2 linked regions of the Homo sapiens genome follow. The protein of the gene in region 1 purifies or fractionates together with the protein of each later gene. This does not show direct contact. Each region holds a gene or a part of one and is shown in the gene's direction. Other genes may lie near its edges.

What was found. The genes of interacting proteins can lie anywhere in the genome.
Region 2: the proteins of ITGA8 (region 1) and ARFGEF2 purify together in Homo sapiens (affinity purification with mass spectrometry; one large-scale study listed by BioGRID and IntAct). This does not show direct contact.

What each region holds. Positions count from the first base shown.
Region 1 is NC_000010.11:15,639,855-15,643,506, reverse strand, and holds part of ITGA8 (integrin alpha-8 isoform 1 preproprotein), read left to right. Parts: intron 1-3,652. UniProt on the Homo sapiens protein: Integrin alpha-8/beta-1 functions in the genesis of kidney and probably of other organs by regulating the recruitment of mesenchymal cells into epithelial structures.
Region 2 is NC_000020.11:49,029,670-49,033,321, forward strand, and holds part of ARFGEF2 (brefeldin A-inhibited guanine nucleotide-exchange protein 2), read left to right. Parts: intron 1-2,379; coding exon 2,380-2,497; intron 2,498-3,353; coding exon 3,354-3,530; 3' UTR 3,531-3,652. UniProt on the Homo sapiens protein: Promotes guanine-nucleotide exchange on ARF1 and ARF3 and to a lower extent on ARF5 and ARF6. Promotes the activation of ARF1/ARF5/ARF6 through replacement of GDP with GTP. Involved in the regulation of Golgi vesicular transport.

The sequences.
Region 1 (3,652 bases):
GGAGTTCGAGACCAGCCTGGCCAACATGGTAAAACCCCGTCTCTACTAATAATACAAAAATTAGCTGGGCATGGTGATGCATGCCTGTAGTCCCAGTTACTCTAGAGGCTGAGGCACAAGAATCACCTGAACCCGGGAGGCGGAGGCTGCACTGAGCCAAGATCGAGCCACTGAGCTCTAACCTGGGCGACAGAGTGAGACTGTCTCAAAAAATATATGTATCTCTTCCAGCCATATTTTGTGGTTTTCCAAAGATAGACTGAACATTTTAAAGTGGAGAAAAAAAGAACTGGTTCATGATAGGAACCATAACTATTCTTGATTTACCTAATTCACATTGAAGGCACATGGAAAGCCATGAGGCACAGGTAATTTATGTATTGTGCATGCTATATGAAGACATTGATTTGTCTTAAAAGATTATTTCACTGTCCAGGTTTTTTAGCAGAGAACATCAGACTTCTTGGTTTTAGGGTTTGATTTTCACTTTTATGTTTAAGATGGTTTCAATAAATACTTAGAAGTCATTAATAGTTAAATGACAGTTTCAACTACTTATAAAAACCTTGTCTCTTTCCACTAGCCCCTCCCCTGATTGGGAATTTTCCATATGTAGAGCTATTTTTTGGTTTGGGGCAGCATCCAGTAAGCTGACTGCCTAAATATACATCATTAATTTCAGGCCTTTGGCTTTCTTCTCTCCTCTGGGATTAGACAAAAAGGATACCGCAACATATTCTTATAAATTTGCCATAAACCTTTTATGACACTAATGGAGACGTCATAGTGGGCTCAAAGTGGATTTGGTATTATATCGTATACTAATGCTTCCTACCTGTGGCAATTTCAAGAACATCTAGTTAAATTTATTTTCTTAGGTTACATTATGCTAATCAATGGTGGTTAGTTGTTATTACTGGGGAGAGGTTTGTATACATAATATATCCAAATTTAAAATAATTCAAAAATCTAGGTCCCTTATGTAATTCCTACCCCAAAAATGTCAGGGTGATTAATGAAATTCAACTCCTGGGTTGCATTTTAGGTAAACAATTAGAAAGTTACTGCTATTTATTATGGTAGTCATAGGTCTCCTTCCCACCCTTAGTACCAGGAAAATTGACAGAAAGGCTGTGCCTTTGATGAGGCAAAGGAAATAGAGGATGTATCCATCACATAGCCAGTCCTTTGACTTCCTTCCAAGGCTAAACACGTCCCAAATGAGAGCCAGGAAGGACAGAGGCATGAGTCAACTTTTCTCCCCAGGAATACTCCCTTCAGGGAGAAAAAATTTAAAAGCAGCAGGAAGGGAAAAGGAAGCTAAAGTCTGTGCAATGTTAGTAATTGATTACCTCTTTTTTTCTTTTCCTTTTTTTTTCTGAGACGGAGTCTTACTCTGCCCTCAGGCTGGAGTGCAGTGGCACGATCTCAGCCCACTGCAACTTCCACCTCCTGGGTTCAAGCGGTCCTCCTGCCTCAGCCTCCCAAGTAGCTGGGACTACAGGCGTGTGCCACCACACTCAGCTCATTTTTGTAGTTTTAGTAGAGATGGGGTTTTACCATGTTGGCCAAGATGGTCTCAATCTCTTGACCTCGTGATCTGCCCACCTCAGCCTCCCAAAGTGGTGGGATTACAGGTGTGAGCCACCACATCAGCCGATTACCTCTTAATTATGTCTTTTTCTTCCCTTAATCAGAAATATTCACTTGAGGCCATGTGCTAGTCAACAACTTTGCTGAGTCTGATGCAAATTATAATAATCAGACATGTCAGTGCTGTGCGTCTTGTCTCTGAAGTAAATGTTCTTTACTAAGGCAGGCCCGTCAATGCTGCTTGGTTGAATTTATCCCTCAAGAGTCTTGAGGCTTTCAGAGTTCATCCATGCATCTTGGTAGACCTGGGTTCTGGCGCCAATTCTGTCTCTCAAATAGGAATATGGATATCTTGTGATTCATGATTCTATAACATTTTTCCCTGATCCTCATCCTCTAGCAAAAAGAATGCCATTCAAAGAAGCCTTTTTAACTTCATAGCAAGATCCCAGGACCTACAGAGAAGAAACTGCCTTAGAGGCAGGCGACTAGATTCTCTTATTACAGTTGATTGAAAGCTGCAGGCCAAATTCAGGAATCAGACATGTAACTTTCTTCATTTTTCTAGAAATGAATTCCATTTAGCTTTCAAAGCCTCCATTTCCACCATGGTAGAAAATGATGATCTTGCAATCACTTCTATGTTTAGATTTAGTCTTATTTAGGTAAGTATTTATTCAGATTCAAGACCCCTCAGCCAGCCGTGGTAGCATGCACCTGTAGTCCCAGCTACGCAGGCAGCTGAGGCAGGAGAACTGCTTGAACCCAGGAGGCAGAGGTTGCAGTGAGCCGATATCGCGCCACTGCACTCCAGCCTGGGCAACAGGGCGAGACTCCATCTCAGAAAAAAGACTCTTTTTCTCCACCCTGTGTAGCTACCCTCCCAAGGAATGAAATAGAAAGGGGTTTACCTGTTGTCCAGCGACTGGGAAGAGATATCTGGCTCACACCCATCATCTGCTATTATTGGCTTCAGACTAAAGGGTAGCTCAGTCCCTTGTGGCCTTTGGGGCATTGCTCAAGCTTCTGTGGCTCGTTCCATTGTCTGTGTAGTGACCTCTGCTCAAAATTTCCCTGTGTCCTGGGCCCTCTTCGTCCTCTGTTAGCCTCTTTCAGTCCCCTTTTAGCAAATGCTTCTGAGCCACTGTTAGGACTCAGACACGCACAGGCTGGGTATTCAGGTTTCTGTGATTGCCCTCAGGCTTATCTACCTAGATTTTCCTTAGCTGTTGCCAGTTTCCACCCAGGCATCTCATTGCTCCAGCCCCTGATTGAGCTGCAGTCTTGTGATGTTTTGCCTGGGAAGTAACAAAAGCCCTCTTTCCCCTAAAGGTAGTTGGATGGCATGCTTTCTAAACCCTATAGTTCAGTCAGTAAATGCTACGTTCTAGGCCTCCATGACTTGTTTTGTGATTTTTCCAAACCAGTGCTTTTTGGAACTTAAAAAGATAAACAATTTCTTTCACTCTGGGGTCCTGCTTTTTCAAATCAAAAGCACTTTGCCTTTCAAATTATGAAGTAAATACACCTGAGAGCGATAACATCAGCATACCCCAAAATGACCCTGGGTGGCACACACACCCCAATGTGGCTGGGAAATCTGAGCTACGGAATCTGGGAGTGGCCAGCCCAGAGATCCATTCCTTGTCTATGAGGAAGACCTGACACCCAGGTCGGTCCCGTGGAACACGGGCCGTAGAGGGGATTGAGGCCCTTTGTTTTTGGATTAAATGAAGGTTGCCAGGTGGAGGTTGTCAGTGGGAGAGTACTAAGTGAAGATGCTTTATAAACTGCATGCCTTTTGCAAGCGGTTGCAGTTCTCTTGCCCAGCCCTCTACCCCCGGACTCTCTGCCCTGTACGTAGGTCCTCAATGAAACCTCATGTCTCACTTGCTGGCTGTTTTTCAGCCTCTTGAACATGCTGCCATCCCCAATGGAGTTGATAAGGGTTTGCACAACACAGATTACTGTGCCTTCTGAGCTTCACAATCTATTCAACAAATTGACTTCCTCCCTCTGAAATCTATCTCATCATCCTTTATAAACAGGGGTTCGCAAC
Region 2 (3,652 bases), on another chromosome or scaffold:
CAAGGTCCACTTCCTGGGTTCAACCAATTCTCCTGCCTCGGCCTCCTGAGTAGCCAGGATTACAGGCGCGTGCCACCATACCTGGCTGGTTTTTTGTATTTTTAGTGGAGATGGGGTTTCACCATGTTGGTCAGGCTAGTCTCAAACTCCTGACCTCAGGTGATCTGCCGACCTCCGCCTCCCAAAGTGCTGGGATTACAGGCATGAGCCACCGTGCCCAGCCTAAAAGTGAATTTTTTTTTTTTTTTTTTTTTTTGAGACAGAGTCTTGCTCTGTCACTCAGGCTGGAGTGCAGTGGCGTGATCTTGGCTCACTGCCACCTCTGCCTCCCGGGTTCAAGTGATTCTTCTGCATCAGCCTCCCGAGTAGCTGGGACTACAGGCGTGTGCCATCACACACCTGGCTAATTTTTGTGTTTTTAGTAGAGACAAAGTTTCACGATATTGGCCAGGATGGTCTTGAACTCCTGACCTCGTGATCCCCCCACCTCGGCCTCCCAAAGTGCAGGGATGGGCGTGAGCCACTGCGCCCGGCCTAAAAGTGAAATTTTTAAGAAATAATTTTACTTAATGTGGGAACTTTTTCATAATACAATAATTTTTACCCCAAAAAAAGCTGCAAAAGTGTTTTTACTTGGAATTTTCAGCAATTGGGGCATTTTATTTGTTTTTTTAGAGTCAGGGTCTTGCTATGTTGCCTAGGCTGGTCTCGAACTCCTGGGCTTACGAGCTCTTCCTGCCTCAGCCTCCTGAGTAGCTGGGACTACAGGCGAGCAATTTTTCTTTTGAAATCTTAGCAAAAAAAAAAAAAACTGGAAGGAAATATGCCAAAATATTGTCATGTATCCCTTAGAATGATGTAGCTATTTTTCTTTATAATTTTTTTCATAATTTTTTACATATATCAGTTACCTTACAATGAGAATAACAAGTCATAAAGTGAAAAAAGAATTAATTAATTAAAGGAGGCACCAATGGCTCATTTCAGCTTAAGCCCAAAAGACAAATACCTACAGTCTCATAAAGTTTCTCTAAAGGAGATATGTAGGGCCGGGCGCGGTGGGTCACATCTGTAATCCCAGCACTTTGGGAGGCCGAGCCAGGTGGATCACAAGGTCAGGAGTTTGAGACCAGCCTGGCCAACATGGCCCTGTCTCTACTAAAAATACAAAAATTAACCAGGCATGGTGGCAGGCGCCTGTAATCCCAGCTACTCGGGAGGCTGAGGCAGGAGAATCACTTGAACCCAGGAGGCAGAGGTTGCAGTGAGCCAAGATTGTGCTGTTGCACTCCAGCCTGGGCAACAAGAGCAAGACTCCGTCTCAAAATAAAAAAAAGAGATATGTAAATGTCAAGTTTTTGGCATGTTTTTTAAAAAAGCAATTAAATGTGATTGTGAGGAGAGAAAGGCAGTTATATAATTATGAGTAATAAGCTCTTGTGCTACAGACATTGATTGAGTTCAGCCCTAGCCATGTGCCAGGACTGAGCCAAGTTATGACTTAACATATTTACTTCATTTAATCCTCACAACAACCCCTTGAGTTTGGACTTTTTTTTTTTTTTTTTTTTTTTTTTTTTGAGATAGTCTCACTCTATCGCCCAGGCTGGAGTGCAGTGGTGCAATCTCAGTTTACTGCAACCTCCACCTCCTGAGTTCAAGTGATTCTTGTGCCTCAGCCACCTGAGTAGCTGGAATTACAGATACGCACCACCACACCCAGCTAATTTTTCTATTTTTAGTAGAAATGGGGGTTTGCTACATTGGCCGGGCTGTCTCGAACTCCTGGCTTCAAGTGATCTGCTTGCGTTGGCCTCCCAGAGTGCTGGGATTATAGGCATGAGTCACTGCACCTGGCCAGGCAATTTTTTATCTCCATTTTATAGCTGAAGAAACTAAGGCTCAGTGATTTGCCCAAGATAGCACAGCCAGAGTGGGTGCTCAATAGTTATTGCAGTGGCTGGGCTCAGAGGCTCAGGCTCACATCTATAATCCCAGCACTTTGGGAAGCCAAGGCAGACAGATTGCTGAGCCCAGGAGTTCAAGACCAGCCTGGGCAACGTGGTGAAACCCCATCTCTACTAAAAATCAAAAAAATTAGCCAGGCATGGTGGCGCAAGCATGTAGTGTTAGCTGCTTCAGAGGCAGAGGTGGGAGGATCAGCTTGAGCCCGAGGAGGTCAAGGCTACAGTGAACCTTGATCACACCACTGCACTCCAGCCTGGGCCGCAGAGCAAGACCCTGTCTCAAAAAAAAAAAAGTAATTAAAAAAAACATGTTAAAATAATTTTAAAAATAGCACAAGAATGAATAGTTCTCCCCTGAATGTGAGATGTTAATCAATTGTTTGATATGCCTCCCCCTCTCTAATTCTTCTAGTGTTTGCAGTGAAGCTCTTGCCTATTTCATCACTGTGAATTCTGAGAGCCATCGGGAGGCCTGGACAAGTCTCTTGTTGTTACTTCTAACTAAAACCCTCAAAATAAATGATGAAAAGGTATGAACAAGTAAACTCTGACCAATTTTCACTAGGACATAAAGTTTGGGTTGGCTTTTTACTCAAGAGTTTGCAGTAACTATTTTCTCAGTTCTCCCAAGGATGGTTACGTGACTAGCACCATTCTAGATGCATTGGAGAGAAGTTAATCCGTTATGGACAATGGGTGCCACAGGATATTAGGGCTTTTTGCCTGGAAGAACAGTAGTTGAGAACGGCTGAAGTGTAGACCTCATGTGTTGCTGTTAGGAATGGTATGGTGAGTTTCAGTGCAGGAAGAGAGGGTTAAGATTGTGAAGCACCAGTTTTGACCTAGGAACCTGCTTTACAAAATAAAAGAGCTGTTGACTTTTGGCAGCAAGACTATCCAAATTTAATTAAAGTTAAATATAACTGAAAGAAGCTTTAATTTGCAAGGTTTCTTCAACTTCTTTTTTTTTTTTTGAGACAGAGTCTTGGTCTGTCACACAGGCTGGAATGCAGTGACGTAATCTAGCTCACTGCAATTTCTGCCTCCCAGGCTCAAGCGATCCTCCCACCTCAGCCTCCTGAGTAGCTGGGACCACAGACACGCGCCACTATGCCCAGCTAAGTTTTTGTATTTTTGGTAGAGACAGGGTTTCACCGTGTTGCCTAGGCTGGTCTCGATCTCCTGAGCTCAAGCGATCCACCTGCCTCGGCCTCCCCAAGTGCTGGGATTATAGGCGTGAATCACTGCGCTCGGCCCCAACTTTCTAATAGCAAGAAAAGCACCAATATTGTAATAAGTTCCAGGGTGAGATTAACACTTCTGAAAAACTGGTGCCCAAAAAAAAAAAAAATTGTCTAATTTTATCTGTTTCTCTCCCACCTCAAGTTCAAAGCACATGCTTCAATGTACTACCCCTACTTGTGTGAAATTATGCAGTTTGACCTGATCCCTGAGCTCCGAGCAGTTCTGCGGAAGTTCTTCCTACGGATAGGTGTTGTGTATAAGATATGGATACCAGAAGAGCCATCACAGGTACCAGCAGCACTGTCACCAGTGTGGTAGCCCTGGCTGCCCAGGCCAGTGCTGCAGCTCTGCAGAATGTTCAGCATGCCATTTCTGACTGGCACATCTCGTGAAGTTTCATAGAAACAAGGAGTTGGCATCTTGGATCTCAGAATGGCCTG